Regions from separate parts of the Homo sapiens genome. Here regions 1 and 3 are each reported to be linked to region 2. Evidence: microRNA targets listed by miRTarBase, many of them from high-throughput screens and not tested one by one. Region 2 holds a microRNA gene; each other region holds the end of a gene's coding sequence.

Region 1 (3,000 bases), not on the chromosome of region 2:
AAGCAGTAGCCCAGAGCCAGTAACAGAAATACCACCACCCCTGGGCCCAAAAGGGCAGGGTGAAGGACAGGTTAGGAAAAATAAAAGAAGTCAGGTGGAGTTGGCTGCCTGGAGTGTTCCTTGAGGCACAGTGACTTCTGGCTGAGGAACAGTTGGCCTGAGGTGACCTTGCAGAGAGAGGGCCAAGGGAATAAACACTCTGCCTTCATTCTCCTCCCTCCAGCCATCTCCTGCTATGGATCGCTATTGGCCAAACCCAGCAGAACCCAGAGACATGGGAAGTCTGTTGATGTCTATACAGCTTCCTTGGGCTGAAAGCAGGATGAGGGGAGCAGAGACTTGGGAGGGGCAAATGAAAGACACCTGGCACACTCATGCTATGAACACTGATGATGTAAGCAAAATTTACAAAAGCACTTGGGAGGATGTGTGGGAGGAGCAGAGGCAGTGTAAGATAGCGGCATCTCAACCATTATGGGAAACAATGTCTGAAGTTGATGGCTCAAAATATAACAGTATAGCCAGGCAGTGGCTCATGCCTGTAATCCCGACACTTTGGGAGGCTGAGGCAAGAGGATCACTTTGAGGCCAGGAGTTTGAGACTCGCTTGGGCAACAGAGCAAGACCCCGTCTCTACAAAAAATTAGCCAGGCGTGGTGGCACACACCTGTAGTCCTAGCAATTCAGGAGGCTGAGGTGGGAGGATCACTTGAGCCCAGGAGTTGGAGGCTGTAGTGAGCTATGATGATGCCGCTGCACTCCAGCACCTGGGTGACAGTGAGACCCTGTCTCAAAAAATAAAATGTTTATATTTTTATATTTTTATAATTTATTTATAAATATGGAGATAAATTTAAAAAGCCCACAGCTCAGTAGGTAAAACCTTTGAGGAGCAAAGAAGTAGGGACAATTAGAAACGTTGCAATATTACTTAATTTTTAAAAGATGATGTGTGGGCCAGGTGCAGTAGTAGCTCATGCCTGTAATCCCAGCACTTTGGGAAGCCAAAGTGGAGGATCGCTTGAGCCCAGGAGATCGAGATCAGCCCAGGCAACATGACGAAACCCTGTCTCTATAAAAAAAATTACAAAAAACATTAGCTGGGCATGGTGGTGTGCACCTGTAGTCCCAGCTACTTGAGAGGCTAAGGTGAGAGGATCACTTCAGGACTGCAGGTCGAGGCCATAGAGAGCCGTGATCATGCTGCTGCACTCCAGCTTGAGTGACAGAGTGAGACCCTGTCTCAAAAACATAAATAAATAAAAATGATGTGCATATTTAAGAACAAATTAATTTTCAAAAAGTTGCTAGAAGGTTACACACAAAATCAACTGGGGCGGACTCTGGATGCACTGCCTATGAATTAGCCTTGCTCCACAAGGAGCAGCACTGTTCAGGAAAAGACTACTGTCTAACAAAAACAAACCATACAACAACAACAACAAAAAAACAATTGGTTACCTCTGTGGAGCTGGAATAAGGGAATGAGAGTTGAGAAAAAACATTCGCTTTTCATTTAGGATCCTCTTGCATTGTTGTACTGTAAATATCTGTTATTTTTATAATAGTATTTATACCTTAAAAAAGTTTATTTGCTAATGAGAATTTATCTTATCCCTCAGGTGGCTTTGGACAGAAAAGCTGAGACCTGCTGATTTACATGATTTATATCAAATAAAGCCCAAGGTAAATCAGTGACTTGACCAGCCACAGAACTTAATAGAGCCTGAGTTAGGACCCAGACTTCATTAGGGACCCAAGGGCAGGAGTTCCTTTTAATCTTTCCCAGCTTCAGAGTGAATACAAAAAATATATAAGGATGCATCTCATCATCTTTGAATATTTATAGGTCCCTACACTGAATTTTCAAAGCCCAAGATAAAAATCACATAGCGGCCCAGGTCCAGACCCAGGCCCAGCCAGCCATATGAGTGAGCCCAGAACAGCAAAGAACTGCCCAGTCGAGTCACTGCTGCTGAAAACCACTAAATTTTGGAGTGTCTTGTTACGCAACAATAGTAATTGTTGTCCCACCACTACACAGATGCCATCACAACATCCAAATTCTGCCTTCTGACGTGGTGAAAAATTTCCCTTTTGAATATTTCAATAGACTTTAAAAGAAAATGAACTACCAGTTAAACTGAATGTTTAATACATTTGTAGGAACAGAAGAAATGCAGTAAGGATTAAAATTTTATAATTAGACATTAATGTAACAGATGTTTCATTTTTCAAAGAAGTTTCCCCCTTTTCCCTATCTTTTTTTAATCTTCCTTAGAGCAATAAATAGTAATTACTATATTTGTGGACAAGCTGCTCCACTGTGTTGGACAGTAATTATTAAATCTTTATGTTTCACATCATTATTACCTCCCAAAATTCTACCTTCATTTCCCTGCACAGTTTCACTGGACTGTTTCACAACAAAATTGTACTCCACTCAAATTAGAAGAGCCCAAAGAAATTAGAGCAAACAGCAAATTCATATGAATTAGAGAACCAAAGATTTTAAAGTGCTGATTTAGTAACATAATGTCTACTGGCACAAACCTTCTATTTAATCATATTATTCAAACAGCAATAACAGAAATGAAAGCTACATTAACGAAAAAGGAACTTAGGAATGAGGTCATTAAATATAACTAACTACATTTTAAATACGGATATCATATATTTCCTGATTAGTATCAGGTAAATATCTAGACTCCTATCCTGAATTCCGGTCTCAGATAAAAAGGTCAGAGACAATTACAAGGAAGATGCTTCATATTATCAGGTCCATTTTTTAAATGATGGGGTCCTTTAGGAAAATTTCTTTAGTCTTTCTTTTTATCACAGATTTCTGTTGGTCCTTTTGTTGGTAATCCATTCATGTCTGCACCCTAAAATGAAAAAACATTTTAGAAATTATCATAACAAGCCGGGTGCGGTGGCTTATGCCTGTAATCCCAGCACTTTGGGAGGCTGAGGCAGGCAGATCACGAGGTCAGAAGATCG
Region 2 (3,229 bases):
ATGTCTTCAAGCGTTTTCGTGTCTGACACCTCTCTGCAGCCTTCCTTGTCAGTCCTTTTACGTTACTGCTGCCAGAATACTCAGATGTTGGATGCACCTTTGAGAAGTCCATTTATAAAGGCTAGAATCCAAATACTAACTGCGGAGGTCTGGGACTAAGGATGCAGACTTCTTTATGAAGCATTTCCTGTTACGGCTTGGAGGGAGGCTGGGCTCTTATCTAAGATAATGCTATTCTAAACTAGGCCCCAGCTCTGTAAGAGTCCCCGCCTTCCAAGATAGGATTTTTATATTTGAAAATTTCAGGGCCTTGGTCTGGCAACTCTTAAAAACATTCTAGAAATTAATGAAATGTATGTACCTGAAAACGCTTGTACATTCTCAAAAGGCGTTATATAATTCTGGTCACCTGTAGCTTTTGCAGTGTTTTGCTTGGTATAGGAGATTATGTATAGTTCACTTTTTTTTGGTGAGGTTTAAAATAACAATAGCATTACTCTACTCCCTCTTCAGAAGAAATTTTTCCGCCAACTAGTCTAATAATTCTTAAGCATTAGTTATATTTTTGCATTTATATAGCTTTATATTTTTAATTCTTTAAAAATATTTTCTCTTCTATATTATCTCATTTTAGTAGTTATACTTTGACTTCTTCAGCCTGATGCCTCTCCTAGCTTAGAGGTAGATAAAGGAAGGGGATAGATACATAAATATGCACACACTGTGTATCGTATATACCTTCTGATACCGATTTATGTCTATATGAGAAGAGAGAGATATATATACACACATACATATATATGCATATGTGTGTATAATCTCAGAAAGTCATGATATTTCTCATGACTACTGTACACTATATTCTTTGGAACCTAACAGCATAATCCTAGAGACTTGGATGTTTTATGGCTGTAAGAGACCATACAGTTCATTCCACAACATGTGAGTGGCAGCTTTAAATGCCTGGCACAGTGAATGCAAACTTGGATTCAATTCTTGTTCCTTACCTAATAAATGAACTTTCACTTTGAGGAAGTGCAGAAGAACATAGGGAGGTGGAGGTGAGTAACTTGCTGCAGGTTACATGGCAAGTCTCCGCATATGCCTGGCTAGCTCCTCCACAAATGCGTGTGGAGGAGCTAGCCAGGCATATGCAGAGCGTCACTTACAGCCGAACACAGCACTACTGCTTGCATGTTTAATGAGAATTGAGCAGTCTGGAAAACAAGTCACAAACTTGAGCTCTTGTTTGTTCATTTGTCTTGGTGCTGCTCCTTGTTCTTTGGAATAAATGCTTGTCACTTAGGAAGACTCAAGGTGGCCTATCGGTGAGTCCATGTTACTGGGGATGGTTGGCCCCTTCTTGAAGGCAGGGACAAAGAGCACAAGTTTGGCCACATGTAGTTCATTGCGTAAATAGTGATTTATTATTTCTCCACACTTGGGCCCTGGAGCCTCTGTGGCCCTGGCTCACGTACTGTTAGTCTAGAATGTATTCTTCATTTGCGCCGTGGTATGAGTTGCCTTCGTGCTTATTCTGACAGCTGTGGCTGATGACCTTGTGAAACACAGTGGCTGCCTTTGCCACACTGCACCCGTGCTTGTTAGTGGTTCTATGAGAACTGATCTTTAAGACCCCCCATTGCCAGTATTAGGCTGTGGTAAGTTTTTGGTGACTTCTTTTCTTAAATATTCTGTCAAAGTAACAATGTCTGCCGACAGCTCAGGTAGATGAAGGCATAGCTCATGTTTCATGCTTGGTTTGTATGTCTGCAGCTTTGCCAAATGCTTGAGATCTGATGAATTTTGAGACACGGGAAAGAATATAAATGAGAGGATTATGTAGTGGGGATTTACGTCATTTTTATGACTTAAAAGTTTTAATTTTTCAAAAGGTATTTTGTAAGTTTTAGGTAAAGGAAACATTTAACTATGGAAATTTACATAAATGTTGTATCATGCTACCACCAGTGCATTTTCCAGCCTGTGGCCAGGAAAGACAGAGCCTGCAGAGAAGAGAGGAGGAAATGGACAGTGTAAGAAGGATGCCAGTGAGGGGATTTTACTTCTGTACATAGCAGGGAAGGCTTTGGCAGCTTTCTGTGGCCAGAAGATAAGGGCGTTCCAGGGAAGGTTATTTTGACCTTTTCCCAAGATGGTTAACTGGCAGGGCATTTTGCTCCAGCTTTCATTTTCTTGGAAGTTTATTACTATTATTATTATTTTAAACAGGGGCATGAACATTTTATAGCTAGAAGAGACTGACAGGTTCATGGTGGGAAGGGAGGGAAGGCAGGAGGAAAGGAACCTTGTTCGCCTTTGGCTTGATAGTTTGAAGGTAGTGGTTTTTGATTACAAAACCTTTGCCTCAGGAGCGTGGCAGGAAGAGGGGGTAGATGAGCTAATGCTCAGAGAGGAGACAGCTGGATCCTGAGGTGGTTGTATTGTCTCTACCCCATTGGTTTGATGTGTGTCACTTAAAAAAAAATTAACATTCCAGAATAATACCTAAAGCATTGTATCCTTTTTTGCTCCTTCTGAATACATTAGAGCTACCTATAAATAAACTGTGTTTGAGAGTAGGAGCTATGATCTGAATTTTGAATTTTTTTTCTTGCATTTAGCTAACCAAGGGAATCCCAATGTAGATTCAAATGTCATTGTGGTCCTGGGCTTGTCTAGCTTCACCTTCACCCCAGTCTGAGGCACAGTCTTAAGAAATCCTTCAGTCCTCACCCCTGGGGTGGGTGGAGACAGCTGGCGTCCCTTGGGGATTTAGAAAACTCATACCTTAACTGATAAGCTAGGGTTGTAACCTTATGCCAGTGACATCAATGTTCACAATAGGTGAATATGTTGTAAAAATAAGAGCCAATAAGTATTATTTCACAGCCTAAATTAAAAAGTCCCTGATCTGTTTTTCCAGGAACAATCTTGTCTTAGTGATTTGGTAAGGTCTTGGTAACATCTGGAAATCTACTTTATAAATCACTTTATGATTCACTTTCCTTATTCTGCATATTATGTTAACATAACAAGTTATGCAATGTTAGCATTCCTATAAATATATTTATAGGTTTCTAAAGGGATCTTAATTGTAAATATTTATCCTCATTAGAGGGTAAGTTTTTTAACATATGCTAAGTTTTAGAGTGTAGTGTTTAATATATGAGGGACATCAGAATAGCCTAATACATTTATTGATTGATTATATGAAGCCCATTTAATC
Region 3 (3,000 bases), not on the chromosome of region 2:
TCTCGTTCATGAGAGAGTTCACACTGGAGAAAGGCCATATGCGTGTGAGGTATGTGGGAAATTATTTGGTAATAAGAACTGCGTGACTATACATCAGAGGATTCACACTGGAGAAAGGCCGTATGAATGCAATGAATGTGGGAAATCATTTCTTTCCAGCTCTGCGCTTCATGTTCATAAAAGAGTTCATTCTGGACAAAAGCCTTATAAGTGCAGTGAATGTGGAAAATCCTTTGCTGAATGTTCCAGTCTCATTAAACACAGGAGAATTCACACTGGAGAAAGGCCTTATGAATGTACCAAATGTGGAAAAACATTTCAGCGAAGCTCTACCCTCCTTCATCATCAGAGTTCACACAGGAGAAAGGCCTTATGAGTGCAGTGAATATGGGAAATCGTTTGCTGAAACATCCCGTCTCATTAAACACAGGAGAGTTCATACTGGAGAAAGGCCTTATGAGTGCTGTCAATCTGGGAAACATCAGAATGTCTGCTCTCCTTGGTCTTAAGAGACTTCGCATTGGAACGGAGTCTCATTCTGTCACCCAGGCTGGAGTGCAGTGGTGCAATCTTGGCTCACTGCAACTTGGGCCTCCCAGGTTCAAGTGATTCTCCTACCTCAGCCTCCCAAGGAGCTGAGATTACGAGTACACCACACCATGCCCGGCCAAATACTTGGTTTTCAGTACCACAAGAGCTATGAGCTGGTTATCCACTTCATGTGGAATCATAAGTGTCCCCAAGTGACAATACGTATAGATTGCTGGGCAGTGAAACAGTTAAGATGTCACCGTAGCTTGCTTTCTATTCAACATCTTTCTAAGATTACCTTACTATTTCTTTTGTTCCAAGTTTGTATTTCCTCAGAGTTCTCACATATGGAAAGGATACACACTTTGTAGAAACAAGAACTTTATGTTATCCAAGTTCTGGGATAGCCATGAGCTCCAATTACCTCAGAGCTCCGAGTCCTCTACTCAGTACCCGTTGAGATTTATGTGTTCTGAGGCTTTTGTCTTCTAGCTACTTACTTCATTCTCCATGGGTAACGTCATTCATCCACATTAACTAATTTCCTCACTCCAAGCTCTTTTCTGGAGATAATCTCCAGTCCCTGTGCAGACACTGTCATTGCACTTTCTGCTGAAATGGTAGTTTCTTGCCAGCAAGGTGAGATTATGGAATCCAGAATCTTTTTTCAGGGGCCACATGCCCATTTCCCCACTTGCATGAATGTCGACACTGTAGCCACAGTTTTGGCCGTAAATGTGAATTTGGCAAGTAACCACTGTTCCCAAATTGGGAAATGTCCCAGTCAGAAGAAGATTATCTGGGACACTGATACTGACAGGGAGATGGGACATTCTGAGGGACCCGGAGGCAGGGAGCCACCTCCTCAGCTTCCCTGAGGGCTGCCTAGAATCTCTCTTGTTTCCTCTCACTCTGAATTATTCTTCCTCTCATGACTGACCAAACACATGGAACCTCACAAAGTCCATTTTAAGAGCTTTATCTTGTGAAGTGAAGAACATGAAGATAGTTTGAATCAAAGTTATTGAGTGGACACTTAATGTCTTTATAACATTTTTTACATATGTGTTTGTGTTTTTTGGGGAGCATAATTTGCAAATGGAATATCTGTTATTTTACTAAGATGCTTCATGGATACAAGAGTTAAAACTTCCTGTCCCATTTAGTGAAACAAAAGGTTAAGAAATGTGGATAAAGCTTGTAAGTTAGAAATGGCAAGATAATCAGCTATATGAAGAATCTCAGCTGGGTGTTTTGGCTCAGGCCTGTAATCCCAGCACTTTGGGAGGCTGAGGTGGGTGGCTTACAAGGTCAGGAGTTCAAGACCACCCTGGACAATATGGTGAAACCCTGTCTCTACTAAAAATACAAAAATTACCCAAGCATAGTGGTGGGTGCCTGTAGTCCCAGCTGCTTGGGAGGCTGAGGCAGGAGAATTCGTTAAACCTGGGAGGCATAGGTTGCAGTGAGCCGAGATTGCACCACTGCACTCCAGCCTGGTGACAGAGCGAGACTCCGTCTCAAAAAAAAAAAAAAAAAAAAAAAAAAATCTCAATCCCTAAATGTTACCTTTTATAACAGCAGGTTATATGGGCTTAGATATTATCCCTAAATTTTTTTTTTTTTTTTTTTTTGAGACAGAGTCTCACTCTGTCACCCAGGCTGAAGTGCAATGGCATGGTCTCGGCTCACTGCAACCTCCGCCTCCCAGGTTCAAGTGATTCTCTTGCCTCAGCCTCCCAAGTAGCTGGGCCTATAGGTTCCCTCCACCACGCCCACCTAATTTTTGTATTTTTAGTAGAGATGGGCTTTCACTACGTTAGCCAGGCTGGTCTCAAACTTGTGACCTCATGATCCACCCCCCTCAGCCTCCTAAAGTGCTGGGATTACAGGCATCTGCCACGGCACTCGGCTTATCCCTAGAAATCCTATGATAGCATGATGTATAGGCACCTAAAGGCATGGCACTTGAGAAATGTGAATAAGATTGTAAGTTACAAATAGCAAGGTACAGTCAGATGTTAACAGTCTCAGCCCCTAAATGTCACCTTGTATTACAGCATGTTATATAAGCACATACAGGCACATACATGAAATAGTGATACTTCATTCTCAGTAATATTTTTCATCCTTCTCACTGGAAAGATCTTTGATGATTTTTAATCAACATAGGAGTTTCAATGATATCTAGAAGTTTAAAAGGGCTCGTTCAAACAAATTATGACCATACACCCTGAAGAGTATGTGTCTGTCTCTTGTGGTGTAAATTTTTATTTTATTACACCCAATTATGTTCCCACAAAACCTTTATAATTGGGAAATTAAGGAGCCTTCCTCGGAAATGGAGGTTGCAATCAGCTGAGATGGTACCACTGCACTCTAGCCTGGGCAAAAGAGCAAGGCCCTGCCTCAAAAAAAACAAAACTTTTTTCTTCATAAACTACAGTTTATATAGGCAAAACTTTCAGT

The links. The annotated mature microRNA hsa-miR-4633-5p reads AUAUGCCUGGCUAGCUCCUC and lies in region 2 at 1,100-1,119, shown strand. An mRNA with a match to its seed (bases 2 to 7 or 8) in the 3' UTR can be bound and repressed. Matches are read on the target gene's strand: a 7mer-m8 pairs with bases 2 to 8, a 7mer-A1 pairs with bases 2 to 7 and ends in A, and an 8mer does both.
Region 1: the mRNA of C18orf32 is a reported target of hsa-miR-4633-5p. The part of its 3' UTR that is shown has no 7-base or 8-base seed match.
Region 3: the mRNA of ZNF417 is a reported target of hsa-miR-4633-5p. Seed matches in the 3' UTR shown: 7mer-m8 at 1,983-1,989.

What each region holds. Positions count from the first base shown.
Region 1 is chr18:49,479,526-49,482,525 of GRCh38, forward strand. C18orf32 (chromosome 18 open reading frame 32) reads right to left here. Exons shown (of 3, transcript NM_001035005.4): 3 at 1-2,885. The coding sequence ends at 2,820. RPL17-C18orf32 (RPL17-C18orf32 readthrough) reads right to left here. Exons shown (of 7, transcript NM_001199356.2): 7 at 1,653-2,885. Among named protein-coding and RNA genes, the nearest start is that of C18orf32, 6.2 kb to the right of the region's middle.
Region 2 is chr5:129,096,603-129,099,831 of GRCh38, forward strand. MIR4633 (microRNA 4633) reads left to right here and starts at 1,086; the gene lies at 1,086-1,164. All of the region lies in intron 1 of ISOC1 (isochorismatase domain containing 1), which reads left to right. LOC124901060 (a long non-coding RNA gene) reads right to left here and starts at 177. Exons shown (of 2, transcript XR_007058926.1): 1 at 1-177.
Region 3 is chr19:57,905,926-57,908,925 of GRCh38, reverse strand. ZNF417 (zinc finger protein 417) reads left to right here. Exons shown (of 3, transcript NM_152475.3): 3 at 1-3,000. The coding sequence ends at 376. Among named protein-coding and RNA genes, the nearest start is that of ZNF417, 9.2 kb to the left of the region's middle.